6 separate regions of the Homo sapiens genome follow, and regions 2, 3, 4, 5 and 6 are each linked to region 1. The links come from fine-mapping of genetic effects on gene expression. A gene starts in region 1. Each other region holds a variant in brackets. All regions are shown on one strand. Distances are between the middles of the regions.

Region 1 (4,000 bases):
TCAAAACTATATTGTGATACCCACTTGATACCTACTAGCCTGTCTATAATTAAAACATAAATGACAAGTATTGAAGAGGATATGGAGAAATTAACTCTCCTATGCACTGTGGAAAGAATGTAAAATAGTGCAGCTGCTGTGAACAACAGTTTGGCAGTTCTACAAAAAGTTAAACACAGAATTATCACATGCAATTCCACTTCTACATATAGACTCAAAAGAATTGAAAGTAGGGATTCAAACAGATCCTTGCACACCAGTGTTCTCAGCAGCATTATTTATAATAGCCAAGTATAGAAAGAACCTGAATGCCCATCAACAGTTGAATGGATAAACAAAATGTGGTATATATGAGTATTGGAATATTATTCAGCCTTAAAAAGGAAGGAAATTCTGATACATGCTACAATATGGATGAACCTTGAAAATGTCATACTAAGTGAAATAAACCAAAGAGGAAAATATTGTATGATTTCATTTGTATGAGGTACCTAGAATAGGCAAATTTATATAGTAAGAAAGAATAACAGAGGTTACCAGGGCCTGGAGAGAGGGAGGGATGGGGAGTTAGTTTTTAGTGGGTACATACTTCTGTTTGGAGATGATGAAAAAGTTCTGGAAATGGATAGTGGTAATGGCTGCATAACACTGTAAATGTACTTAATGCCAATGAATTGTACACTTAAAAGGGATTAAAATGGTAAATTTTATGCTATGTATGCTTTGCCACAATAAAAAATGAAGTATAAAAGAAGAATTTCTGGGCTTTCCGTTTTTTCATGTGTGTTTTTGGTTTTGTTTTTTTGTTGTTGTTTTTTTTGTTTGTTTTTGAGACAGGATCTTGCTCAGTTGCCCAGGCTAGAGTGCAGCGGCGTGATCATGGCTCACTATAGCTTTGACCTCCCAGTCACAGGTGATCCTCCCTCTTCAGCCTCCCAAGTAGCTGGGACCATACGTGTGCATCACCACACTCAGCTAATTTTTATAGAGACAAAGACTCCCTATGTTGCCCAAGCTGGTCTTGAACTCCTGGCCTCAAGTGATGCTCTCTCCTTGGCCTCCCAAAGTGCTGGGATTACAGGTGTCAGCCACCGCATAGGCTTTACTTCTAACTTCTTCTTGGCTGTAGTCCAGGAGTCTTGTTTCCTGAGTCCTCATGATCCCCATCACATGCTTCCAGGTTGATTCACTCTTTGTACAACCCTCTGACCCAGCGCTCTCCACAGCTCTGCCCTCAACTCACCACATATGGTGCTTGAAGAGCCACTTCCTTTCCTATACAGGCCACCAATGTCTTTTTGTGGCACATGAAACCCACTTCAGAGAAATGTGGGACTTTGGAATCCACGAAAGGCATAATTCACTTCACTGTCAAGGGATATAGCTCATTGGTCAGAAACTGTATCTGTTCTCTGAAGGACCATTGCATTCGGTCCCTCCTGGCTGGTTTCTGGTACCTTCTAGTCTGTCCTTCTCCCCTCCTTGTCTGTCTTCATTTCTCTCAAATCCCCCCTCCACCTGGGCAAATCTCTTTAAAGACCCTGTCTTTGCACTCAGAGAACGCCCCATGCTCCACCTCAAATTCTCCCCTCATTTCTGGCCCTGCATCCCTCATTCTCACACTCTACCTAGGCTAGCACTCACTGGTGGAGGGCTGGGGTGCCACAGCTTTGGAGAAGAGGTTTAAAGGTCTCCATATCCAGGAGCTGGCTCTGATATCTCGCCCCACCTGCCTGAGGCTGATCATTAACCCAGAACTTATATAAAGATGGCTCATGCGTGGAATGGGTATAGCACTGCCTGCAGCCATGGCCAGTACGGTTAGCCCCAGCACCATAGCTGAGACCCCAGAGCCACCTCCATTGTCTGACCACATCCGAAATGCTGCTGACATCTCAGTCATTGTCATCTATTTTCTGGTGGTGATGGCTGTTGGGCTGTGGGTAGGTGGAATCCCAGTGGCTTTTAGGGTGGGCACAAGGTTTAGGAGGGGGTATCTTAAGGGGGGAAGGGGTGTGGTTGTGACAAAGCTTTTCACAAATGTCATTGTGTTATCAGAATCATTTTCTTGTGTGTTGCATAAATAACGCTTACAATGAACTAATGTATTCTCCTAATAACCCCATCGTGTGCACACAGCCAGCACCGGGACCTTCAGATTTACTATGCATCCCCAACACCTGGCATAATGGACAAAGAGTGTATTTTTATTATCGCATTTCTTTCGCTTTCTTTTGTTGTTTGCTCACTTTCTGATTTAGTGAGTTGGACTCTTCATTTATGTTGAATTTTTTTATTTTAATAAATTTGAGACTGCAAATTTTTTTTTTTTTTGAGACGGAGTCTTGCTCTGTCGTCCAGGCTGGAGTGCAGTGGCGCTTGCTTGGCTCACTGCAAGCTCCGCCTCCTGGGTTCACGCCATTCTCCTGCCTCAGCCTCCCAAGTAGCTGGGACTACAGGCATGCGCCACCACGCCCGGCTAACTTTTTGTATTTTTAGTAGAGACGGGGTTTCACCATGTTGGCCAGGATGGTCTCGATCTCTTGACCTTGTGATCCACCCGCCTCGGCCCTCCAAAGTGCTGGAATTACAGGCGTGAGCCACCGTGCCCGGCCGAGACTGCAAATTTTATTGCAAGCATGGCTCAATGATACCTCACATGGTTTTCATAAGTGAGAATAATCAGAGCAGTTAAGATAGAAGTTAAGGATTATGATTTTTTTAAGTTCTTCCAGCCCTGGGTTTTTACAAAGCGACTGTTTTTGAAGTCCTTTAAAATTTGATGCTATAGAACACTTTCCAGCGAAATGTTTCTCTCTGTAGGAGTGCTGAAGTCACCCCTCTCAGCACCCTGGCCAGAGCCTCTGGGGTGTCTGGGTGCACTTGCTGGGGCTTGACCCTCACCTGTCTTCCCTTCTGCTCAGGCGATGCTGAAGACCAACCGAGGTACTATAGGAGGCTTCTTCCTCGCTGGTCGTGATATGGCCTGGTGGCCGGTAAGTGGATCGAAGTTTTCTGGAGATAAATTTCCTGTGTGTGTGCTTAAAACTGAATGTAGGCTGGGTGCGGTGTCTCACGCCTGTAATCCCAGCACTTTGGGAGGCCAAGGCTGGCAGATCATCTGAGGTCAGGAGTTCGAGACCAGCCTGACTAACATGGTGAAACCATCTCTACTAAAAATACAAAAATTAGCTGGACGTGGTGGTGTGTATGCCTGTAATCCCAGCTACTCAGGAGGCTGAGGCAGGATAATCACTTGAACCTGGGAGGCAGAGGTTGCAGTGAGCCTAGATCACACCACTGCACTCCAGCCTGGGCAACAAGAATGAAACTCCATCTCAAAAAAAAAAAAGTGAATGTAGACAACATTGGGAATGTTGATCATTTCTGATGTACATTGGTTGCCTACTCGCTGGGGCTCCTTTCCTAAATCCCCGACTTCATGGCTCCTCTCTGTAATTCCAGGACATTACAATATGTCACCTATTATGACAGCCGGTTCAGTCTGGCACTGAAGGACCCCAGCTCAGCCCCACCTTATATTCTTTTCTTCTGCTCCTTATCAAGAGTCTTCTCCTGGCTTCTTACAAGCTCTGCGCATTCCTGCTTTGTTGCCAGTCCTGAGCTGATGCTGGCCCTCTTGTTAGGATTGGCCTCCCCTTGTCTGCTGTCCTCTTTCAATGCCTCACCTCAGCCCTTTCTCATCTGAGGAGCCTCCCGGCTCTCTCCATGGGTCCCTATGTCCCATGCAGTTATTGGTTGTGTTCCCTGTGATGGTGCTAATGCTGATGCCTCTTGATTCTTGCCCAGTGGGTGTTCTTGTGGGGTTTTGATGTGTGACCCCCTCAGCCAGGGTCCCACTGCAGCAGAGGCTGTATCTTCCCCTCTGCACCTGGAGAGTGTCAGCCCAGCATCACATTATACAGTGGGTGCTTAGCAAATGCTTCCTTCACAGATCTGACTCATTTTCTAAATGGTATGAGGGGAAGTGGAGATGGGC
Region 2 (4,000 bases), 59 kb before region 1:
ACTCTGCTTTTTCTCCCTAAATTTCCAGTCTTGCTCTATGAATATTGAGGCTATGCTATTTGGTACATGAACATTCATTACTGTTAGATCTTCATGGTGACTCTCATCCTTCACCCTCACACAGTGCCCTTCTTTTTTCTCATTCAATATGTTTTGCCCTGACTTCAGCTTTGTCTGATATTAAGATTATGACCCCTGATTTAGCTTCATTTGCATTTGTTTGTTATGCTTCTGCTCATCCTTTTTTTAAAATTATGGTAAAATGCACATAACATTTACCATTTTAACTATTTTTAAAGTATACAGTTCAGGGGTATTAAGTACTTCTCACTGTAGTGCAACCATCACCATCATCCACCTGCAGAACTTTATAAAAATCATCTGCCCTTTTTTTTTTTTTTTTTCAGACAGAGTCTCCTGGGTTCAAGCGATTCTCCTGCTTCAGCCTCCCGAGTAGCTGGGACTGCATGCACCCACCACCATGCCTGGCTAATTTATTTGTATTTTTAGTAGAGACGGGGTTTCATCATGTTGGCCAGGCTGGTCTTGAACTCCTGACCTCGTGATCTACCTGCCTTGGCCTCCCAAAGTGCTGAGATTACAGGTGTGAGCCACCATGCCCGGCCCTGCCCATCCTTTTCTATGAAACCTTGCTGAATCATTCTACCTTCAGTGCCCTTGTTTGTGATCCAGTCTCTTTTTTTTTTTTTTTTTTTTTAAGCAAGTGTGTATGGCTCACTAACATTTACAGATATGGCAGATGCATTTGGTCTTAGTTCTGTCATCATTGTTTGATAGGCTTTCTGCTTTTATAGTTTTGTGGGGGTTGTCAGTTTTCACCATACGGTCTCTGTTGTCTTTGTTTTATTTTCTGTGTGTATGTCTTCTGATAATTTGGAAAGCTGCGTTTTTGATCCCATGGTTATCTTCATAATTATAATATGACATGATATCTTTAATCCTTTTATTTCTCTAGACAGCGCTTATTTTCTCCCTACTGTGAACAATATCAAAATTAGAATATTTCTACTTTCCCTCTTCTTGTCTCCCTTCCATCAAGTTATTTTAGTTGATTATTTTTTGTTTACCTTGATGCCTCTAATTTTACTTAGACTTCTAAGCAATAATTTAGACCTCCAACTATATATGAATATGACATAGTTTACTTGTATTACCTCTCTCCTTCTCACCTCCACCCCTCCTACTTTTTATTATTTATGCCAGTTCTGTTTTGTTTCATTCTTCTCTGTGATGGTCATAATCTTTAGATTGGCTTTAATAGTCCTGCAGTTACACAAATTCTGTGCTCATTGCTGGCACTCTTGGCAGTGCTCCATTTACAACTTGACCCCTGATTTCTCTTCATTTGCATTTGTTATGCTTCTGCTCATCCTTTTTATGAATTGTGGTAGAATGCACATAACATATAACCATTTTAACCATTTTTAAGTATACAGTTCAGGGGCATTAAGTACCTTCTCACTGTAGGGCAACTGATATGGTTTGGCTGTGGCTGTACCCAAAGCTCATCTTGAATTGTAACTCCCACAATTCCCATGTGTCATGGGAGGAACCCAGTGGGAGGTAATTGAATCATGGGGGCAAGTCTTTCCCATGCTGTTTTCATGATAGTGAATAAATTTCATGAG[G/A]TCTGATGGGAATTTTCCTGCACAAGCTCGCTCACTCTCTCTGTCCCTTTGCCTGCCACCATCCACATAAGACGTGACTTGCTCCTCCTTGCCTTTCACCATGATTGTGAGGCCTCCCCAGCCATGTGGAACTGTAAGTCCAGTTAAGCCTCTTTCTTTTGTAAATTGCTTGGGTATGTCTTTATCAGCAGCATGAAAATGGATTAATACAGCAGCCATCACTGCCATCTATCCACAGAACTTTTAAAAAAATCATCTGCCCATCCTTTTACATTAAACTTTTCTGAATCATTCTTGATTTGCCTAAGGGTGTCCTTAATTTTTTTAAGAAGGGGTCATGGGAACTATAATTCAAAAATATGTTCAACATGTTTTTCTGTTGACTTTATATTTGAAAGATGGTTCATTGGGCTTTAAATTCTTGGTTCATTCATTTATTTGATAAACATTATTAAGCCCCTACAGTATGCCAGTTACTGTCCTAGGCCCTGGCAATGCAGCAATGTGTAAAACACACAATCACCTTAACCCTCTTGTAGCTAACTTTCTATGTGGGGAAGACAAACAATAAATTATTCAAGTAAGTACAATAGGTGGTATGCTGGATAGAGGTGTGTGCTATGGAGAAAAAAAAGTCGGTGATGGAGAGTACCTGGCTTTGTTCTGTGAAGCTGAGGAGATGGCCCCACGGAATCTCTCACCCTTAGCCCCTGTACACATTCCCACTGATGCAAAGAGTGGAGAGTAGGTTCTCCTTCTTGGCGTATCTCTCACTCTGGGGAGGTGGGCTTTGCTGGCTTTGTCGGAGCCACTCCCTTGACTTCTCCATTTGCCCAAAAAACATGTAGTTTGGTTGAAGATGGTTTATCAGTTAAGAACTGTCACCAGTTGCAATTTATGCAAGTAAAGGAAATTTGACTGCAGTGGTGTGGAGGGGGCAGTCCAGGGCTGCCACCAGAACCCAGTTTCTCCCTGCCTTCTACTCCACCTGTGTTAGTGAGCATCCTTCATTCTCATGCATGCAAGATAGTTCATCTTCCCCTGGATTTATGTCCCCTTCCCAATAGACTCCCACTTACATGACATTGGCCAGACTGGGTCATGTGACCACCCCTGCTTGCAAGGGAGTCTGGGAAGGTAAGTAGTTGTGGCTGGGCAATTGCTCTTGTAATAGACACAGGGCAGTGGGGTTCATGCTGCCTGCCACAGATGGAGTTTGTATTTCTTTTCCTCATTGTCTTGTTTGCAACTTGACTCTGCCATTCAAAGCTATAAGTGCCCAGCAGACCTGTTTCCACACTGTAGATCTTGTTCCACTGCTCTCCTGGCTCTTCCCTATTCCAGGAGCATCTTGGTATCTTCTCTATAGCTTTGTATGACATGGTCATGGTCATATCTTAGTGTCATTCCAAAATACAGGATCGTTTTTGTCAGTATGAATGGTATCTGTATCTGTGTTTAATATTTAGTTTGTTATAGCAAGGGTGACAGTATAATTTATCATCCAAATCAGAATACTTTTGAGGGTAAAAGGGGAACAACATTAAAAATTATGTCAGAACAACAAGTGTCAACTGAGACTGTCCCAAGCCATGACATATAATTACCCTAGTAACTGCTGAGGTCAATGCACACTGTTGCATTTTATAAATTGATCTGATGTCTTACAGGTTGACTATTATACCTCTATGTATGCACTCTCCATTCTACTAATTAACCTGTTGATTCTATTAAATTTTCTATGTAAGTTATCCACAATTAACTGTAATTTTGGTTCTTCTATTCCAGTCCTAGTCTATGCTTTTTTTTCTTGCCTTATTGCATGAGCCAGAGCTCTAGTACTATATGGAGCTATAATGATAGCGACATTTTTGTCTCGCTTCCAGTCTTAAAGTCACATGGTTCACAACGTTCAGAAGACAAAACCCATGTGTTCAGAGGAAACCTGGATTCTTCTGGCACTGAGGCCAGAGAGAAATGTCCCCAGTGAGTCCCCATTGAGGAGACACCATGTGATATTTTTTTTCCTTGTATTTCCTCCAGAAAACCCTTTTGCTGTGCCTCAGGATGGGGGAGATGAGATCTGAAATACCCAGTGCAGCCTCCGAGAAGGACAACTTCTACAGAGATGCCAGGGACAGCCGAGGTGGTAGAGAAGGGAATGCTGCCTGTGCCCAAAGCCCCCTTCTGCGGACTTCTAAGATTACGAGCAAACTCAGGGGTAGGGGCTGGGGGTGCAGGGGAGGGGATTCTGAGCCACCTGTCCACAAGCGATAGTCCTGTTTTGGGCTGGTGGCTTCTGAGAGGTGACTCATTGTGGCCTCAGGATGACCAAGACAAAGCAACTCTGG
Region 3 (5,141 bases), 180 kb before region 1:
CCATCATACTTGAAATAATTAGTTTAAATAAAGGATTTATTAGTGGAAATGAAGGATTCAATTCTTAAATGAAGGATTAGTGCCCACACTTGTAACTGTAGTAAAAAGCAACTGTTAATATTGTGCCTTCGTAGCACACTAAGTATTGAACATAATGAACCTACGGGCTAGGGATTGCCCTTGAGGACAAAGAGATGTTCATGTAGCATCCTGGTTCTAGAGCAAGGATCTTGAGTCAGATAGACCTAGATTTGTTTTTGTTTGTTTGTTTTTTGAGACAGGGTCTCGCTCTGTCATCCAGGCTGGAGTGCAGTGGCACGATCTTGGCTCACTGCAATATCCGCCTCCCCTGCTCAAGTGATCCTCCCAACTCAGCCTCCCAAGTAGCTGGGACTACAGGCACAAGCCACTATGCCCAGCTAATTTTTCTATTTTTTGTAGAGGCAGGATTTCTCCATGTTGCCCTGGCTGGTTTCAAACTCCTGGCTTCAAGTGATCCACCGATCTCAGCCTCCCAACGTGCTAGGATTACAGGCATGAGCCACTGTGCCCAGCCCAGACCTAGATTTGAATCCCAATTCTACCACTTATTCCCCTAGAACCTTGAGAACATCATTTAACCTCTGTAAGACTCACGTTCTCCACTATGAAACAGGGATGCTGATAGAATCTGCCTCACAGGGATTTTCTGAAGATTAAATGTGATAATATATAAAGCCCCTGGCACAGTGGGTAGTATCAAGTATTATGTTCAGTAACTGCCAACTGTTATCATCGTTTGATTTTTGTGTGTAATTATGATTATTAAAGAGCTTTTTTTCTATTCTAACTGCACAATGTAAGATTTAGTCACCACAGGCCATCCTAACCTTGTGATCTCCCTTCACCAACTCACGCCTCACAATCTTTATTTCTTTCTCGGAATGTGGGCAGATTGCAGAGATCTACATCTTGTCCCAGCCCTTCATGGTGAGGATCATGGCCACAGAGCCTCCCATAATCAATCTACAACCAGGCAATTTCACCCTGGACATCCCTGCCTCCATCATGATGCTCACCCAACCCAAGAACTCCACAGTTGAAACCATCGTTTCCATGGACTTCGTAAGTCTGGGGAGACAGTGGAGCAGCCTGTAGATGCCAATCCTGCTCCTGCTGTGGACTGTTGGCCAGCAGCTTTTAAACGTTTGAAGAGGGTGGGGATGCTACATTGATTAAGAGTGAGGATGGAGGCTGGACGTGATGGCTCATGCCTATAATTCCAGTGTCTTGGGAGGCTGAAGCAGGAAGATTGCTTGAGGCCAGGAGTTAGAGACCAGCCTGGGTAACATAGCAAGACCTCATCTCTCCAAAAAAAAAAAAATTGTTTGAATTAGCCAGGTGTGGTGGTGTTGTGCACCTGTCATCCTAGCTACTCAGGAGGCTGAGGTGGAAGTGTTGCTCTGAACCCAGGAGTTTGAGGCTACAGTGAGCTATGATTGCACCACTGCACTCCAGTCTGGGCAACAGGGTAAGACCCTGTCTCAGTGAGGTCAGAGTTGAGGGAAGGGTATGTGTGGCAGGATGGGAGGTAAGCACTCACACTCTCATACATTGTAAAATCTCTCCAGTCTCTACTTCATGCACGCTCTTCCCACCACCTACCTCAGTTACATGGACAGCTGGAATTCTCTCTTTTTTTTTAATCTAAATAAGTCAATCAAGGTAGAATTCATTTTTACTTGAGCAAATGAAGGCCAAATGCAATCTGATAGAAGGACATAATAAACCTAACAAAAATGTCATACGCACATAGGCACATACACACACATACATAAAGAAGAGCGATTAGGAGAAAAAAAAAATTCAAAGGAGATCATCAAACAAAAAGTCTTTGCAGGTAGCTTCCCTAACTACAAGACAGGATTTTCAGAGGTCTGTATTTCCAATGTCTTTTAGACTTCCAATGTCTTTACACTAAGGGGGAATGTTGGGCTTATAATGTTTCAACTATTGGAAATTATACTGATGGCCAAAATTGACACTCACTCGTCTTAATAATAAATGCTTTTATTGTCTATAGGTTGCTAGTACCAGTGTTGGCCTGGTTATTTTGGGACAAAGACTGGTCTGCTCCTTGTCTCTGAACAGGTAAGATCAATCAATTTGACTGTTGGGGCACCTTAGTAATAAGTGAGTCAACTGATCAGAGACAAAGTGACCATTAAGAAAACAAGTGATCTGTAATCTCAGCTACTCAGGAGGCTGAGGCAGGAGAATCGCTTGAACCCGGGAGGCAGAGGTTGCAGTAAGCCAAGATCACACCACTGCACTCCAGCCTGGGTGACAGTGAGACTCTGTCTCAAAAAAAAAAAAAAAGGGACGTTAACCATTGTGTGAACATGAGTCAGTTAAGCACCTCTCCTGTAATGGGCCAGATAACTTTAAAGTATGTACTTTACTAAAAATGGTACTGTCAAGCTTTTCTTTTTTCCATTATAGTAACATAAAAATAAAATAGGGAACAAAATAATTATAAATATAATTTTGTAATATGGTCAGGTGCCATCTTACAGGCTCTCACCTGTAATCCCAGCAATTTGGGAGTGGGAGGATTGCTTGAGGCCAGGAGTTTGAGCCCAGCCTGGGCAACAAAGTGAGACCTCATCTCTACAAAAGCTTTTTTAAAAATTAGCTAGGCGTGGTGTGCACCGCTGTAATCCCAACTACTCAGGAAGCTGAGAGGGAAGAATTGCTTGAGC[C/T]CAGGAGTTTGAGATTACAGTGAGCTATGATCGTGCCACTGCACTCCAACCTGAGCAATAGAATGAGACCTTGTCTCTCAAAAAAATATATCTCTCTCACATATTTTATATTATATATTTTATATACATATACAAATTAAATACATAAAATATTACATATGTAATAAATATATTTTTATATTTATATAAAACATTTTATAAAATATATTATGTTTTATATATTATATTTATTTCCTATATTTTATTTTTATTTATTTTATATAAACATACAAAGAATATATATATAATTCTGTAATAGAAGTGTACATTCTAATGGTACAGCAATATAAACTTCAGTTCTTCTTTATCAAATTCATAGAGCATGCTAGTGAGGAAAGAGCATAAAGCTTTGGGAGTTAAGGAACCAAGTTTCCAGTCCTTATTCACAGGCTCTATGACTGTGATCCAGTCTGTTAACCTCCTTGAGCCTCAGTTTCCTTATCTGCAAATAAGGAAGTTGAACTGGATCATGCCTAAGGTACCTTCAGACTCTGACCATCTGATCCCATTACTAGAACAGAGAAGTTAACAAGATCTTCCCCATGGCCTGTCTGACTGTCAAATGCATGTGACACACGGTGAAAGGCCATGTGCAGGCCACAGACGCAGATCATTGACCACTAAGTGCCATTCGGCAGAACCGTCTGCAAAGCCCATTTTCCTCAGCCCTATAAAGCTGGTAGTTGAAGTCATCCATCAGACTACCTGGGGGGAGAATTTACAGAAAGATTAGACGGCATAGACTAAATGTATGGAAGAAAAGGAAGCAATGAAACAGACGTAAGCAGAGTCAGAAAAGATCTGAGAAACCAGCAGAGGGGGAGTAAATCAATCACAAGTCAACGTGGTAGTTATGAAGTCTATTGTGGAAACATGGAAAATGGCCAGGCGCGGTCGCTCACACCTGTAATCCCAGCACTTTGGGAGGACGAGACAAGTAGATGATGAGGTCAGGAGTTCGAGACCAGCCTGGCCAACATAGTGAAACCCCATCTCTACTAAAAATACAAAAATTAGCCGGGCATGGTAGCATGTGCCTGTAATCCCAGCTACTCGGGAGCCTGAGACAGAAGAATTGCTTGAAGCCGGGAGGTGGAGGTTGTGGTGAGCAGAGATTGCGCCACTGCACTCCAGCCTGGGCAACAGAGCGGGACTTCATGAAAAAAAAAAAAAAAAAAAAAAAAAAACAAAGGCCAGTTGCCATGGCTCACGCCTGTAATCCCAGCACTTTGGGAGGCTGAGGCGAGCGGATCATGAGGTCAGGAGATCGAGACCATCCTGGCTAACATGGTGAAACCCCGTCTCTACTGAAAATGCAAAAAATTAGCTGGGCGTGGTGGCGGGCGCCTGTAGCTCCAGCTGCTTGGGAGGCTGAGGCAAGACAATGGCGTGAACTCGGGAGGCCGAGCTTGCAGTGAGCCGAGATGGCGCCACTGCACTCCAGCCTGGGGGACAGAGCGAGACTCCATCTCAGAAAAAAAAAAGAAAAAGAAAAAAAGAAAAGAAACATGGAAAATGTTTTCAAGAAAATTATGTTAAATGGAAAAAACAGAATACAAAACTGCACAAACACAACAGCTGTTAATTGTATAAAATAGCTTTGCATCTGGAAGAGGAAAATAGCTTTGCATCCGGAAGAGGAAAATAGCTTTGCATCTGGACAAGGAAGTGAATCACAAAACTGAAAATGAAGAGTTGTATTAGGATATGGGATTATGAGAGGGTTCTTTTTTCATTAAAATTTTCTTTGTAAGTATATTGTTTTTCCAACAAAGGGAATATAATTTTGTTTTTTTTTGAGATGGAGTGTTACTCTGTCACCCAGGCTGGAGTGCAGGGGTGCGATCTCGGCTCACTACAACCTCCGCCTCCCGGGTTCAAGTGATTCTCCTGCCTCAGCCCGCCAAGTAGCTGGGATTACAGGCGCCTGCCACCACACCTGGCTAATTTTTGTATTTTTTAGTAGAGATGGGGTTTCACCATGTTGGCCAGGCTGGTCTCAAACTCCTGACCTCAGGCGATCTGGGGCCTCGGCCTCCCAAAGTGCTGGGATTACAGGCGTGAGCCACCATGCCCAGAAATACAATGTTTTGTTTGTTTGTTTGTTTGTTTAAAGTAGTATGGTTTCCCAGAAAGAAAAGGTTTTACGAAGGTTTACTCGCATTTACCAAGCCCTTCAAAGCAGTCCTGACTTCTTCATTAGCTTCCTTTAGGCACAATAGGCACAGTGCCTAGAGCCACAATACTTTAAAAGCCCATGAGAGGCCGGGCAGGGTGGCACACACCTGTAATCCCAGCACTTTGGGAGGCCAAGGTGAATGGATTGCCTGAGCCCAAGAAGTCGAGGCTGCAGTGAGCTAT
Region 4 (5,119 bases), 98 kb before region 1:
GCCCTCTTTTCTCTCTGCCCAGCTCCCCAGCCCTGAGAGCCAGGCTGTCCAGGACACTGTTGCATCGTCAAATTCATGAGGTCTTACATTTGGGGCCCGCCTCAATTCTTCACCTTACAGCAGGTTCAGAGATGGAAAAAAAAATGGGAGGAAGCCAGGAAGGAAACACACACAAAAGGCCAGCAGGTGGCTCAGGATGCTTGTGAAAGGTAGTATCCCAGCTGTGCAGGAAGCAGTGCAAGGAGGGTAATAGGTGTTCCCTTATTTCTATGAGAATATGCAAAGCATTTGCTCAAGGAGAGTTGGTTTTCTCAGTGTTGAAGCCAGCCATCTTTTCTTTTCTTTCTTTTTTTTTTTTTTTTTTTGAGACAAAGTCTCGCTGTGTCACCAGGCTGGAGTGTAGTGGCACAATCTTGGCTCACTGCAACCTCTGCCTCCCAGGTTCAAGCGATTCTCCTGCCAAAGCCAGGCATCTTTTCACGACTAAAAGCAAGTACCTGTCTTAACCAAGGCCTCAATATTGATGGGATTTGGTCTCTGACACATGCACAGGTGACCTGTGCACCTAGGGCTGCCTGGCAGCTCTAGGAAATGGCAATTCTGTCAGGTACTTGGCACAGAAAGTCACTGGCCTTCTTTGGAGGATGCATCATTTATGGAAACACTTCTTTATTGGATCCTGGGTCTCGGGTGGAAAACCAGGTCCCACATCAGGACTTTCTCTGTGAGGCTCCCAGGTTCTGGGGCTCCAGCTGCTGTCTGAGAGGAAGGTGTGGAGACAGAGAACATAGCCTAGAAGAGCCTGGAACTGAGACTTCCCCTTACCGAGGTTATGCAAATGAGGTTCTTGGACTACATATTCTGATTGGATGAGAAGAAAAACCTCTAGATCTACTCTGATTGGGCTTTATTTGCATGTTCTGATTGGATGAGAGCAAGTCTTAGGACAACCAATCAGAACATGATAACAAAGTCCAATCAGAGTAGGCCTAGAGGTTTTCCTCATCCAATCAGAACATGTAGCCCAGGAACTTCATTTGCATAAATTCTCATATATAAATGATGCCAAGTGGGGGGAGTTTTGTCATTCCAAGCTCTCCTGCGTCAGCTTGTGTAGCTGGTTAGTACTGGCTTAGAGGAAAAAGAAAACGAGTCACTTCCTGAGCACACTGGAGTCTGGAAGCTTAGAGGAAAAGGAGGAGGAGCAACTTCATTAGCACAGTGGAGGCTGGAGCCTGCCGTGGCTCACCTCGCTGCTGCCGTTGGTGCGGGCCAGGGAGACTAGAGCGCAGCCAGAATGGTAAAATGGTGGTGGGAAAAGTTCGCCATCCCAGGCCGTACTGCCTGTGGCGTGGCGTGGTGGGGTGGGTTGGAGGCCCTATCCAGGGCGTTACTGCCCGTGTTAGGAGGCTGGTTGGATGTGGTATCTGGGGCCTCACTGCCCACAGAGGGGAGTGGGTTGGGGGTGCTATCGGGTGTGCGCTGCCCGTGGCTGGGGGTGGGTTGGAGCACTATCCCAAGCTGTACTGCTAGCGGCAGTGGGGAGTTCTGGGGGCACTATCTGGGGATGCAGTGGCCGTGGCCGGCGGGCGAGTTGGAAGAACTATCGGGTGTTGCATTGCCCTTGTCAGGCACGGGTTGGGGGCGCTATCGGGTGCTACTCTGCCTGCGGTGGGCGGGACGTGTTATATCCAGGGCATCATTGCCTGCGTCTAGAAGCTGGCTGGGGGCATTATCCATAGCTGCACTGCCCACAGCAGGGAGCAGGTTGGCAGCACTATCTGGGGCTGCAGTGCTGTGGTGGGGGACGGGTTAGGCTCATTACAGGGTGCTACACTGTTGGCAGCAGGGAGGGGGGTGTTGAGGGCGCTTTCTGGGGCCTACACTGAGACAGAGATAGCAGGATTTATTGGGAGTGCTACTGGGGGCCAGACTGCCCGTGTAGAGGGGGTGGGAGGCTGGTTGGGGGCGCTATTGAGGGACGTATCCACTGCCCGTTTTGGGAGGGGGCGGGTTGGGTGCTATCAGAGGTCTGTACTGCGTGCCAGGGAGCTGGTGGGTGTGCTACCTGGGGCCACATTGGTTCCGGCGGGGCGGGTTGGGTGCGCTATCGGGGGCTACCTTGCCCGCGCAGGGGGTGGGTTGGGTGCGCTATCTGTGGCTGTACTGCCGGAGGCAGGGAGTGAGTTGGGGCGTCTCCCTGGGTTGCTGCTCCCAGTGGGGAGCAGGTTGGGGCACTATCCGGGGTTGCACTTCCCGCAGTTGGGGGGCGGTTTGGGTGCCATATCAGGGCATTACTGCCCCCAGCAGGGGTCTGGTTGGGGGCACTATTCGTGGCTACACTGTGTACGGCAGGGAGCGGATTGGGGGCGCTATCCCGGGCTGCACTGCCCGCGGCAGGGGGCGGGTTCTGGGCGCCATTGGGTGCTGCAGTGTCCGAAGCAAGGGCAGGTTGGGGTCGCCATTGGATGCTACACTGCCGGTGGTTGGGGGTGAGGTGTTGGAGGCGCTATCTGGGGGCTACACTGCCGGCGGCGGGTTAGGGGTGCTGTTGGGGGCTGCGCTGCCCCCCTGGTGCTGGTGGTGTCAGTGACGGGTGGTCAGAGGAGCGGTCCTCGTCTCCCCGGACTCCAGACTCTAGAGGGCCATCTCCTCCTGCTGGAGCGCGGCGGATGCACAGCGTTTCCGCGGGGATCCTGAGCACAATCCGTCACCTAGACCAGCCGTGGTTCCCAGGCCCGCGCCCTCTATGTGTTGCGGAAACTGCCTGGGACCCCCGGGCACGCAGTAGCTGACACTACGGGGTGATAGGGCCCCGTGGGTGGAGGCGTCAGGAACGGGAACCAGCACTAGGGTTGGGAGGGCTGGCTGGGGTTCAGTTTTTGCTGCTCCTGCTTCCCGAGGAACGCAGCCAGGGTGGGCCCAGCGGTTCTAGTAGAGTAGGAAGCCCGGGCACTGTGGTGTCTCCAGTCCCCACTCCAGGCCCTAGTTCCTGGCCAACTTGGGCCAAAAGGAGAGGCTGGACTTTGGAGGGTGGGCGTGAGTGCCTTCGCTGAAACCGGCCTCTGCCATCCAGTGGCCAGCATGCCAAGGTGAGGCTCTAACGCTACCACTCTCTGCATCCTGTTCTAGGCTTTCTTGGCTTTGCCTGCCCAGTTGTTTCATGCCAGGAGGAGGAGCCGCCTGCTGGAGGCTGGAGCTTGTGGCACCACCGCTCGCCTCGCTGTGGTTGGTGGCGGCCATGGAGACTAAAGACTCAGCGCTGGAGTGGTAGGAGGGCGGCAATGAAAACTGAAGAGCACCAGAGCGGTAGGATGGCGGCTGGCTGCCGCCAGGGCACAGGCAGTGCAGTGGTCAGGTGTTAGGAGCCTTGTAGGGTGGGCCTGTGCGTTGAGGGTGACAGCAGTAGTAGTTGTATTAGCATCGGTGCTAGTTGTGGCAGCAGCAGCAGCAAGTTTGGGGGCCGGGAAGGCAGGTCGGAGCGTTGGGGGGCAGCCCTGCCTGGCCTGGGGTGGGTAGGAAGCTGTGGGCCTCTGTGACAGC[G/A]GTGGAGGTGCAGCCAGGGGAAGGAGGAGTCTTCCCCGCATCTCCTGCAGAATCTGGAGGGCGCCCTCCTCCTGCTGGCACCTGAGTCAGGTGTGAGTGGCACCATTATGTTATTAACAGAAGTTTGGGGGGTAACTATTTGTGTATCATTTTGCTTGGTTTTTTGTCAGGGTAGTCTTGGACTTTTTTTTTTTTTAATTTCTGGGGTACATGAGCACAACGTGCATGTTTGTTACATATGTATCCATGTGCCATGTTGGTGTGCTGCACCCATTAACTCGTCATTTGCATTAGGTATATCTCCTAATGCTATCCCTCCCCCCTCCCCCCATCCCACAACAGGCCCTGGTATGTGATGTCCCCCTTCCTGTGTACAAGTGTTCTCATTGTTCAATTCCCACCTATGAGTGAGAACATAACGATGTTTGGTTTTTTGTCCTTGTGATAGTTTGCTGAGAATGATGGTTTCCAGCTTCATCCATGTCCTTACAAAGGCCATGAACTCATCATTTTTTATGGCTGTGTAGTATTCCATGGTGCATATGTGCCACATTTTCTTGGACTTTTTTAAATTTCATGAATCAGGAAGGGGACAAAATGTATAATAGGTCTCCTTGATTCTCTTACCTGTTCTTTTTCTTTTTTTCCAGCCTGGTTTTTCTTCTGCTTATCATCATTTTCTTGTTCCTGTTCATTTTCTTATGCTGCTGCTTCTATTTCTTGTGTCCTTTCTTGTTTCTCCTCCTCCTCCCTTTGTTTTCTTTATCACAAGCAATGGCCTTAACAAACAACAGTCCAAAACTGAGTTAAAAATAGACGACTTGTCATTGTATTCCACCCGCCCACCCCCCCCCCGCCCTCCCCCCACCGCCCCCACCCTCCCCCCACGCCCCCCACCCCCGCCCCGACGGAATCTTGCTCTGTTGCCCAGGCTGGAGTGCAGTGGTGATCTCTGCTCATTGCAACCTCTGTCTCCCAGGTTCAAGCAATTCTCCTGCCTCAGCCTCTTGAGTAGCTGGGATTACAAGCGAATACTGCTGTGCCCGGCTAATTTTTGTATTTTTAGTAGAGATGGGGTTTCGCCATGTTGGCCAGGCTGGTATTGAACTCCTGACCTTGTGATCTTCCCATCTCAGCCTCTCAGAGTGCTTGGATTACAGGCGTGAGCCACCTCGCCGGCCCAGTGTGTTGTATTTTAAAAATGATCGGTCCGTTATTGTTTTAGAGATGAGGAAAAAATCAGTTGGATAATTATTTAGATTCTTGAGTAGCTGTGCTTTCATATCCTGTTAATTCGTTGTAAGTAGTTATTTGGGGAATCAAAAAATGAAGCGTCAAATAAAATATTGGTTGCAAACAGCCATTTTCTCTCTCTCCCATATTAGTCTGGAGATAGGCAAGAGGCATGGAGGTAATAAGTTCCAGTGTATGAGATCATTAAGAGAACCATATTCCCTTCATTTTATTTCTCTGCCACCATTTTCTGAGAGTATTGTCATCTGCATAAGCAAATTTGGTTCATCACATCGTTGCAACAGGAAAAGGAAGGGGAGGATCATGTGGAATTATAATGTTT
Region 5 (4,000 bases), 78 kb before region 1:
GCAGAGCCAGAGAAGCACAGCTGCAGGGGTGTCCCAGGGCTCCCAGTGTCCTTGGGTTTTCCATCTGTGTCTGGCTCTCCTTCCCGACCACCTACCCTAGGCTGGCAGACCCTGTGACCCTCCCTGTGATCTCTTGGAGGCAGGATGGGCCTGGCTTCAGCCTCCATGCGAGCTGGCCCCGCTCTCTCCCTGCCCAGCACTGCGGAGCGTCCCTTCTCTGAGCCTCCACGGTCCCTTCTGGACCTTCACTGCCCAGCTCCTCCTACAAGTGTGGAAACTCAAGTCCTTATCATAAATGCCCTATTCCATGAAGCCATGGCTGCTGTGTCCCTGCCTGGACTCTGACCAATACTGTTGTCACTTGTTTCTAAGGGACATGTCCTTGTCACCCTTCAGGGCCTCAAGCCCAGATGTGTCCCCCGATCAGTGTGTACGCTTACTGGAGTGCCGCTGACGTCCTCCCCAAAGCCATGATTCAATCCCTGGGACATCTCACCGTTGACAGCATCCAAGAGGGAGGGAGCTTCGGGACTCCAGTCTGCAGGGTTGTCGAGATGGGAGAGTGGTTCCGTTCGTTTAAGGGAAACATGGAGCCAGCGAAGCACGGGGACTTGGTCAGGTGGGGGTTTTGGTGAGAGGCCACTACCACACAGCTCACAGCAGCCAACCAGCAGGAATGGAGGCAGGGAGGCCCGGGGGGAGGCCATCACTGTGCCCCAGGCAGTGGGGGGACACAAGGCAGTATTTTGGAGGTAGTGCAGGCAGGAGCCACAGAGGAATTGGATGTTGGAGGGGCACACTGAGGACGAGGACAACTCGAGGGTCTGAACCAAGAGACACGTGGTGTTGCTGCTGACCAGGAAGGACAGTGCTGGAGGGGCGGGGCTGGGCACAGGGTCGTGCATTGTTACCACCATGGGACGCCAGCACCAGGGGAGAGGTGGAGAGGGCAGAGGTGGGTCCTGAGGGGCTAGGACAGGTCACAGGTGAGCAGGAGTCTGTGTGGCATGGTGTGTGCATTGTGTGATGTCTGTGTGGCATGGGGTGTGTGTGTTGTCTGGCATGGTGTGTATATGTATATTGTGTGGGTCTATGTGATGTGTGTGTGTGTGTTGTCTGGCATAGTGTGTGTATATTGTGTGAGTCTGTGGCATGGTGTGTGTGTGTGCATGGTGTATCTGGCATGGTGTAGTGTGTGTAGTGTGTCTGTGTTGCATGGTGTGTGTGTATATTGTGGGTCTGCAGCATGGTGTGTGACGTGTGTCTATGTGTATGTTGTGGGTATGCAGCATGGTGTGTGGCATGGGGTGTGTGTGTATGTGTATTGTGGGTGTCTGTGGTGTGTGTGTGTATATTGTGAGGGTCTATGTGGTGTGTGTGTGTGATATTGTGTGGATCTGTGTGGCATGGTGTGTGTGTTTATGTGTATTGTGGGTGTCTGTGTGGCATGGTGTACGTGTGTGTATTGTGGATGTTTACTGTCCTGGGCAGTAGAAAGGACGTTGGGGAAGCAGCCCCAGCATCAGGGGCGGGCCAGGAATGCAGAATGCATGGAAGCTGGTCAGGTCAGAGCCCGGGCTGAAGGAAGCACGGAGATGCAAGGGCACCAGGGCCTGTGGGACCAGGAGCCGATGATCAGGGCCACAGTGCACACAGCCTTGGAGGTAAAGGACACATTCATTTCATAAGGATTAAAAAGCATGGGCTAAGTCTGGGCCCCAGGCCAGGACTGGGGATACAGAGTGGATCAGTCCCCATCCCTGCCCTGAGGTGCTTACCTACACCCATTCACCTCACAGGTTTCCCCACTCTGGCCCCTTGGCGAGCTCCTACTCATTCCTCAAAACCTCACTGAGGTCATGCTCCTTCCGGAGGCCTCTCCCCATCCTCTAAAAGACCCCTCTGCCTGCTGCCCACTTCCAGCACAGTCAGAGAGCCCCGTGGCCTGTTTCCACTGGACTGGGTGAGGGCAGGACTGGTCTGAGTCTTCTGGGGGGGGGGTGCCAGTGCTAGAGCAGAGTCCTGGGCTGGGAGTCCCGGCACCTCATTCCACTCCTACACCCACAGACTCACTGTTTAACCTCGGGCAGGCCACGTCCCTCCTCGGCCTCACTTTCCCCTTGTGTAAGATGAGGGAAGGGACTGAGGCTTCTAAGCCATCTCTCAGCTTAAAACCTCTTTGACTTTCTATCTGGCTAATGGAGATGCTGATCAGGGGTAAGAATGGATTTGAAAAACGCTTTGAAAAATTCATAGCAGGAGGCAAAGGAGAAAGAGTCTTTATTTTCGCAGAGTGGGAGGCAGGAGTTACGGAC[A/G]GAGGCTGCCGATGAAAAGGACAGCATCTCAGAGCACTTTGTGGTATTTAATGTCTAATGCATCCTCCCGTTAAAGCAGTGGCATCAAATATTTACCAAAGCAGTATTAAAAATTAACCTTTACCATGGGGATGTATAAAGTCCCTAAGTTCCCCGAGAAGTGTCTGAACGTCAGGAGGGTAAAGCGACAGGAAGGCAGGCTACAAGTGAGGTGTGAATAATGGAAGCCTCTAAAACTGACACAGCTCCCTGTTGACCCCACTCCCAACGCCAGGGCAGCCTCCGGCCCTGTCTCTGCAGAGGCTCCCAGCCCCTCAGAGACTCCCAGAAGGCCCGCAGGATAAGGACAGGCCCTCAGCTGGGCATCCACAGCTTTCCATGGCCTGGCCCTGCCTCTCGGGGCAGCTGGGATCTGTAGGATGGAAAGGAATGAGCCTGTCGGAGTTGGAAGAGACCAGGGGAGGAAGTGGGAAGTAAGTGGTCCAGGCACTGGAAATAGCATGTGCAGAGGCACTGAGGCAGAGACAGCCGCACATCCATCCATCTGAAGGGCAGTCAGGTGGCATGAGTGTGGGGGAGGAAGTGCAGGAGGGGACGGGTGGCAGATGCAAGTAGGTCTGACTGTGCAGGGCCATGGTGAGATGTGGGCTTCTTAGTCCAGGGACAAGGGTGCCCTCGAGGAGAGTGACAGGAGGCACTTGCCTTTGGGAAGGGAGCTGGGAGTCCACCGGAGAGGCTGCCACTGTCTCACGAGCTGCAGCCATGTCTGCGGCTTGGCCGAGGGTGGTGGTGGGGAGGGGCCGGCACCAGGGAGTGGAGTCCATGGGATTGGCCAGGGCCTGGGGTGGGGGCTGAGAAGGAGGTGGGGGTCCAAGGAGGATGTCTGGGCCCCTGGGCTGAGCAGCCTGGGAGATTTTCCAAGATGGGGACCTTGGGGCAGATGTGGCTTTGGGCTCAGCAGCATGGAGTGTCTTGAGTTTGAGATGCCCCGAGAGACCACTGCAATGGGCCTGGGGAGGAGCAGCCCCCACCCGTGGCAGGAGGAACCCCAGGGCGAATGGGGTCTGGAAGCCGCGAGAGGATCAGGGCAGCCGAGGGGCATGGGATCTGGCCTCGGATGTGGGCTGCGTGTCCTGCCCTCCGCCTGTCGCTCCTGCGATGTCCCTTGCTTCCCATGCCCACGTCCCCATCCCAGGTACAATCCGTGGGCTCCAGCAACACAGCAGGCACTGTCCTGTCTGCCAGAAGCCGCTGGGCATAGCTGGCACCAAATAGCTTTGTCATCTCCACCCCACCGCTTGCCTTTTACTATAGCTGGGTTGCCCGCCAGCTTCTTCCTGAAGGAAACAAAGTTTCCGTGTGTCATTATTTAGATTATGCGGCGCCCTATAAAGCACAAAATAATTCTCATTGTCCTCAAGCAGGATCTTTATTTTGGTATTTCCTGGAGACCAGGGGAGCTGACTGGGGCGCGAGGGAGTTTGCAGAGCACGGCCATTTCCCCCGTGCCGCCATCTCGCCAGCGGCGTTTTTCTTGCCATTTTGCTGGAAACTCAGGCTCAGAGAGGCCAAAGCACGTGTCCAAAGTCAAACAGCCAGGGAGAGGCTCTCCCAGAGCACCTACAATGTGCCTTGGTGCCCCAACACACACACAGCCCCCAACACACAGCCCCCAATACACACAC
Region 6 (4,000 bases), 65 kb before region 1:
ATTCTGGTTTCCAACCCTTAGGTCTAGAATGTTGAGCTGGTCACACCTCCTGGTCCCTAGCTCCAACATCAGTGGCTGTGATGGGTCCCTTACTGTACCTGCCCATTCTCCCACCCTCCAAGCCTACTCCGTCCACCCCACTCTTTCATCTTAATTGAGTGTGATGCCCAAATTATGCACAATGCTGGGAACATGGAAGTGTTTTCACTTGTCATGTATAGTATTTCTCACCTTTGACCCAACGTTTTATGTGCAAGACCTATGCATTCTGCCATAGGCGCTCTTGCACCCTCACTTCTGAGAACTGTATGGAAGACTGTATAGGCACCATGGAATACTATGCAGCCATAAAAAAGAACAAGATCATGTCCTTTGCAGGGACATGCATGGAGCTGGAAGCCATTATTCTTAGCAAACTAACACAGGAACAGAAAACCCAATACCACATGCTCTCACTTATAAGCGGGAGCTAAATGATGAGAACACATGGATACATAGAGGGGAAGGACACACACTGGGGCCCACTGAAGGGCGGAAGGTGGGAGGAGGGGGAGGACCAGGAAAAAATAACTAATGGGTACTAGGTTTCATGTCTGGGTGATGAAATAATCTGTACAACAAACCCCCATGACACACATTTAGCTGTGTCACAAACCTGCACGTCCTGCACGTGTACCCCTGAACTTAAAAGATTTGTGTTCGTTTTTGAGACAGAGTCTCGCTCTGCCATCCAGGCTGGAGTGCAGTGGCGCGATCTCAGCTCACTGCAACCTCCACCCCCTGGATTCGAGTGATTTTCCTGCCTCAGCCTCCCAAGTAGCTGGGACTACAGGTGCCTATCACCATGCCTGGCTAAGTTTTGTATTTATTTAGAGACGGAGTTTCATTCTTATTGCCCAGGCTGGAGTGCAATGGCACGATCTCAGCTCACCGCAACCTCCGCCTCCTGGGTTCAAGCAGTTCTTCTGCCTCAGCCTCCTGAGTAGCTGGGATTACAGGTGCACGCCACCATGCCCAGCTTATTTTTGTGTTTTTAGTAGAGATGGGGTTTCAACATGTTGGTCAGGCTGGTTTTGAACTCCTGACCTGGTGATCCGCCTGCCTCGGCCTCCCAAAATGCTGGGATTATAGGCGTGAGCCACCGTGCCCGGCCTTAAACGTTTCTTAAAAAGAAGCAGCTCATGCTAATGCAGTTCCCTAGGAAGGTGACGGGTTGCCCCTGAAGACCAGCTCCCGGGCTTCTTTGGGAAGTACACAGAGAGAGGTTGCCGGATCGTCCACAGAGCATGGTGGTGAGTCCCCTTCGCGGGTGTTCACTTACCTTTCAAATCATCTGATCTCCTAAGTTTGGCCGATTTGATGGATTTAAAGTGACATCTCACTGTCTTACGAATTTTGTTATCTAGGTAATGAATAGATTTTTTTTAAAGCAGTTTTAGGTTTACAGAAAAATTGAGCGGAAAGTACAGAAATTGCCCAGGGGAGGAAGGGTGGGAATTCAAGACTAAGGTTCAGGGCAGAGGGCTCAGCGTGTAAGTGGCATTAATGCCACAAATCATGAATCTCAATGACTAACACCCAGGAAAGGAAAGCAGAGCATGGGAGGTGGCTGAGGACAGCTGCCCAAGCCTGCCTGGTCTCTGCATGGCTCTCCATTGTGCAGGAGCTGTTGTTTTTGACCTGGCATCCTGCTGATGGAGACTTCACTGATCCTAATCTTCTGCTGTGACCCACCTTTGTGTGATGAATGTGCTTGTACCTATGTTGCCCTTGTGAGCATGTCTGTAGGATAATCGTTACGTGAGACTGCTGGGTCAGAGGATGTGGGCATCTGTACCGTAGGCATGTGTCAAATTGCCTTCCAAAGAAATGACCCCAGCATCCCCCCCACCAGCAGTGAAGCAGAAACCCAAACCAGCAAATGCATTGGGTGCTCAGCCCTTTTGATCAGTGTCAGGGTGGCAAGTGAAGGAATGCGGATGCTCCCTTTTGTCTGCGCTCTGAAATCCTCTCTCATTATGGCTTTAATTTGCATTTCTCTTATTTTAGAGTTTGGATTTGCTGTTTGACAGTTTCTCTCTTTCTTCTTGGCAACTGGTCTGTTTAGATTCTCCCTTCCCGGATCCTTTGGGTAATTTCTCTTTTCTTGGAAATTGATCC[A/G]TTTCTTGGAGGCTTCCTGGTTTCTGTAGAGTTGAGCAGGCAGTCGCTTTTGTTCTTCTGTTTGTTCAGTTCATCTTAATTGAGTGCTGACCCTGTGCTGGGCATCGTTATTGGCCCTGGGGATATAGTCATGGGCCAAAAGCAGCAAAAAGCCTGCTTTTATGGAGACTGCAGACAGTTTTTAAAATGTTTATGTGAAATATATGGACTTTTAGACAGCGATAATGCATTTGAGGTAAAGGATAATTTTAAACATGTGGCCAAGGGCTCACTAAAAAGGTGACTTAAAGGAGATCAGGGATTCAGCCTTGGGTTTATCTGGGAGAAGAGACAGGAGCATGCTGGTACAGATGGTGTATTAGTCAGTGTGCTCCAGAGGAACAGAACCAATCGCATATAGACACATATGAAGACACACACTGTAGGTAATTGGCTCCTGCAGCTATGCAGGTTGAGGAATCCAAAGGTCTGCAGTTAGCAAGCTGGGGACCCAAAAGAGCCGATGATGTGAGTTCCAGTGTCAGTCGAGGGCCTGAGACCCAGGAGAGCCAATGGTGAGAGTTCCAGTTTGATTTGAAGGTCTGAGACCCAGGAGAGCTGATGGTGTGAGTTCCTGTTTGATTTGAGGGTCTGAGACCCAGAAGAGCTGATGGTGTGAGTTCCAGTGTGAGTCGATGGCCTGAGACCCAAGAGAGCTGATGGTGTGAGTTCCAGTGTGGTCGAGGGCCTGAGTCCCAGGAGAACCCATGGTGTGAGTTCCAGTGTGAGTCGAGGACCTGAGACCCAGGAGAGCTGATGGCATGAGTTCCACTATGAGTCAAGGGCCTGAGAGCCAGGAGAGCCAATGGTGTGAATTTCAGTCCCACCCTGAGTCTAAAGGGAGGAGAAGAACGATGTCCCCACTTAAAGGCAGGCAGAGAGTGTGAATTCCCCCTTACTTGTTGGTTCTGTTTAGGTCTCCAGCAGGTTGGATGAGGCCACCTGCACAGGGGAGGACACTGTTTTCCTCCATCTGCCAGGTCACATGTTCCTCTCATCATGAAACACCTTCACAACACACCCAGAAAAATATCCCACCAAATATCAGGGCACCCTGTGGCCCAGTCAAATTGACACTAAACAAACCATTACCGTTGGAGTGGAGAGAATGAAAAGGAAAAGAGTGAGGAATAGGACAGGGAGGTGATGGGGTGGGAAGGGCTTTAGCTTCTACTCTTAGTGAATCTGGGAGCCACTGAGGGTTTTGAGGAAAGGGGTGGCATAATTGGACTTAGGTTTTCACAGGGCTTCTCTGGCTGCTGTGTTGAGAGCAGATGGAAGGGGCTGACCAGCACAGACACCCACTGCAAGAATCCTGCTAGTGTGGACCACAGTAGGAGTGGTGGAGGCAGCAGGAAGTGTAAGGCTTGTTGAGATTCCAAAGGAAGGGCCAATGGGATTTGCTCCTGGGTTGGATGTGGAGTGTGAGAGGAAAAGAGGGGTCAAAGATGACTCCAGGCCTCTGAGGAGAGCAACTGACAGGATGGAGTTGTATTTCCTGAGGTCAGAAAAATTGTGGGAAAAGCTAGATGGGGGAGGAAGGTTGGGATTTTCGTTTGGGATATATTAAGTTTGAGGTGTCTATTAAATATCAATTTGGTGACATCGAGTAGACACGTTGGCCATCAGAATGGAGTTTAGATGAGAGTTTGAGGCTCAAAAGTCATCAGCGTATCTCCAGCCTGGGTGACAGAGTGAAATTCCAGCTCCATCTCAAAAAAAAAAAAATCAACATATGCTGTTTAAATCCTTGGGAAGAGATGAGGTCCATGAGTGAGTAGAAAGAGTGAAGAGGAGGTCA

Direction of the effects. Positions count from the first base shown, and alleles are read on the strand shown. Sizes are in standard deviations (SD) of each study's normalised expression. Not every link is listed here.
As copies of C replace T in region 3, the expression in lung of the gene that starts at base 1,791 in region 1 goes up (moderate effect, 0.44 SD a copy in GTEx).
As copies of G replace A in region 6, the expression in iPS cells of the gene that starts at base 1,791 in region 1 goes down (moderate effect, 0.54 SD a copy in HipSci).

What was found. PIP is the estimated chance that this variant, and not a neighbour inherited with it, causes the effect.
Region 2: its variant is fine-mapped to the expression of SLC5A4 in atrial appendage (GTEx, PIP 0.96).
Region 3: its variant is fine-mapped to the expression of SLC5A4 in lung (GTEx, PIP above 0.99).
Region 4: its variant is fine-mapped to the expression of SLC5A4 in visceral fat (GTEx, PIP 0.96).
Region 5: its variant is fine-mapped to the expression of SLC5A4 in subcutaneous fat (FUSION, PIP 0.95).
Region 6: its variant is fine-mapped to the expression of SLC5A4 in iPS cells (HipSci, PIP 0.91).

Annotation. Positions count from the first base shown.
Region 1 is chr22:32,253,138-32,257,137 of GRCh38, reverse strand. It overlaps SLC5A4 (solute carrier family 5 member 4), which reads left to right and starts at 1,791. Exons shown (of 15, transcript NM_014227.3): 1 at 1,791-1,943; 2 at 2,925-2,996. The coding sequence starts at 1,809. All of the region lies in intron 2 of SLC5A4-AS1 (SLC5A4 antisense RNA 1), which reads right to left.
Region 2 is chr22:32,312,513-32,316,512 of GRCh38, reverse strand. It overlaps a transcript of SLC5A4 not described here. Among named protein-coding and RNA genes, the nearest start is that of RFPL3, 43 kb to the left of the region's middle. The variant G/A (reference allele first, on the strand shown) is at 1,650.
Region 3 is chr22:32,428,336-32,433,476 of GRCh38, reverse strand. BPIFC (BPI fold containing family C) reads left to right here. Exons shown (of 17, transcript NM_174932.3): 12 at 934-1,104; 13 at 2,063-2,130. Among named protein-coding and RNA genes, the nearest start is that of RTCB, 19 kb to the right of the region's middle. The variant C/T (reference allele first, on the strand shown) is at 2,742.
Region 4 is chr22:32,351,028-32,356,146 of GRCh38, reverse strand. It overlaps a transcript of SLC5A4 not described here and a transcript of RFPL3 not described here. Among named protein-coding and RNA genes, the nearest start is that of RFPL3, 4.3 kb to the left of the region's middle. The variant G/A (reference allele first, on the strand shown) is at 3,544.
Region 5 is chr22:32,331,198-32,335,197 of GRCh38, reverse strand. The region is part of intron 1 of LOC107985561 (a long non-coding RNA gene); the gene reads left to right. It also overlaps a transcript of SLC5A4 not described here. Among named protein-coding and RNA genes, the nearest start is that of RFPL3, 25 kb to the left of the region's middle. The variant A/G (reference allele first, on the strand shown) is at 2,316.
Region 6 is chr22:32,318,159-32,322,158 of GRCh38, reverse strand. It overlaps LOC107985561 (a long non-coding RNA gene), which reads left to right. Exons shown (of 2, transcript XR_001755500.2): 2 at 1-4,000. It also overlaps a transcript of SLC5A4 not described here. Among named protein-coding and RNA genes, the nearest start is that of RFPL3, 38 kb to the left of the region's middle. The variant A/G (reference allele first, on the strand shown) is at 2,161.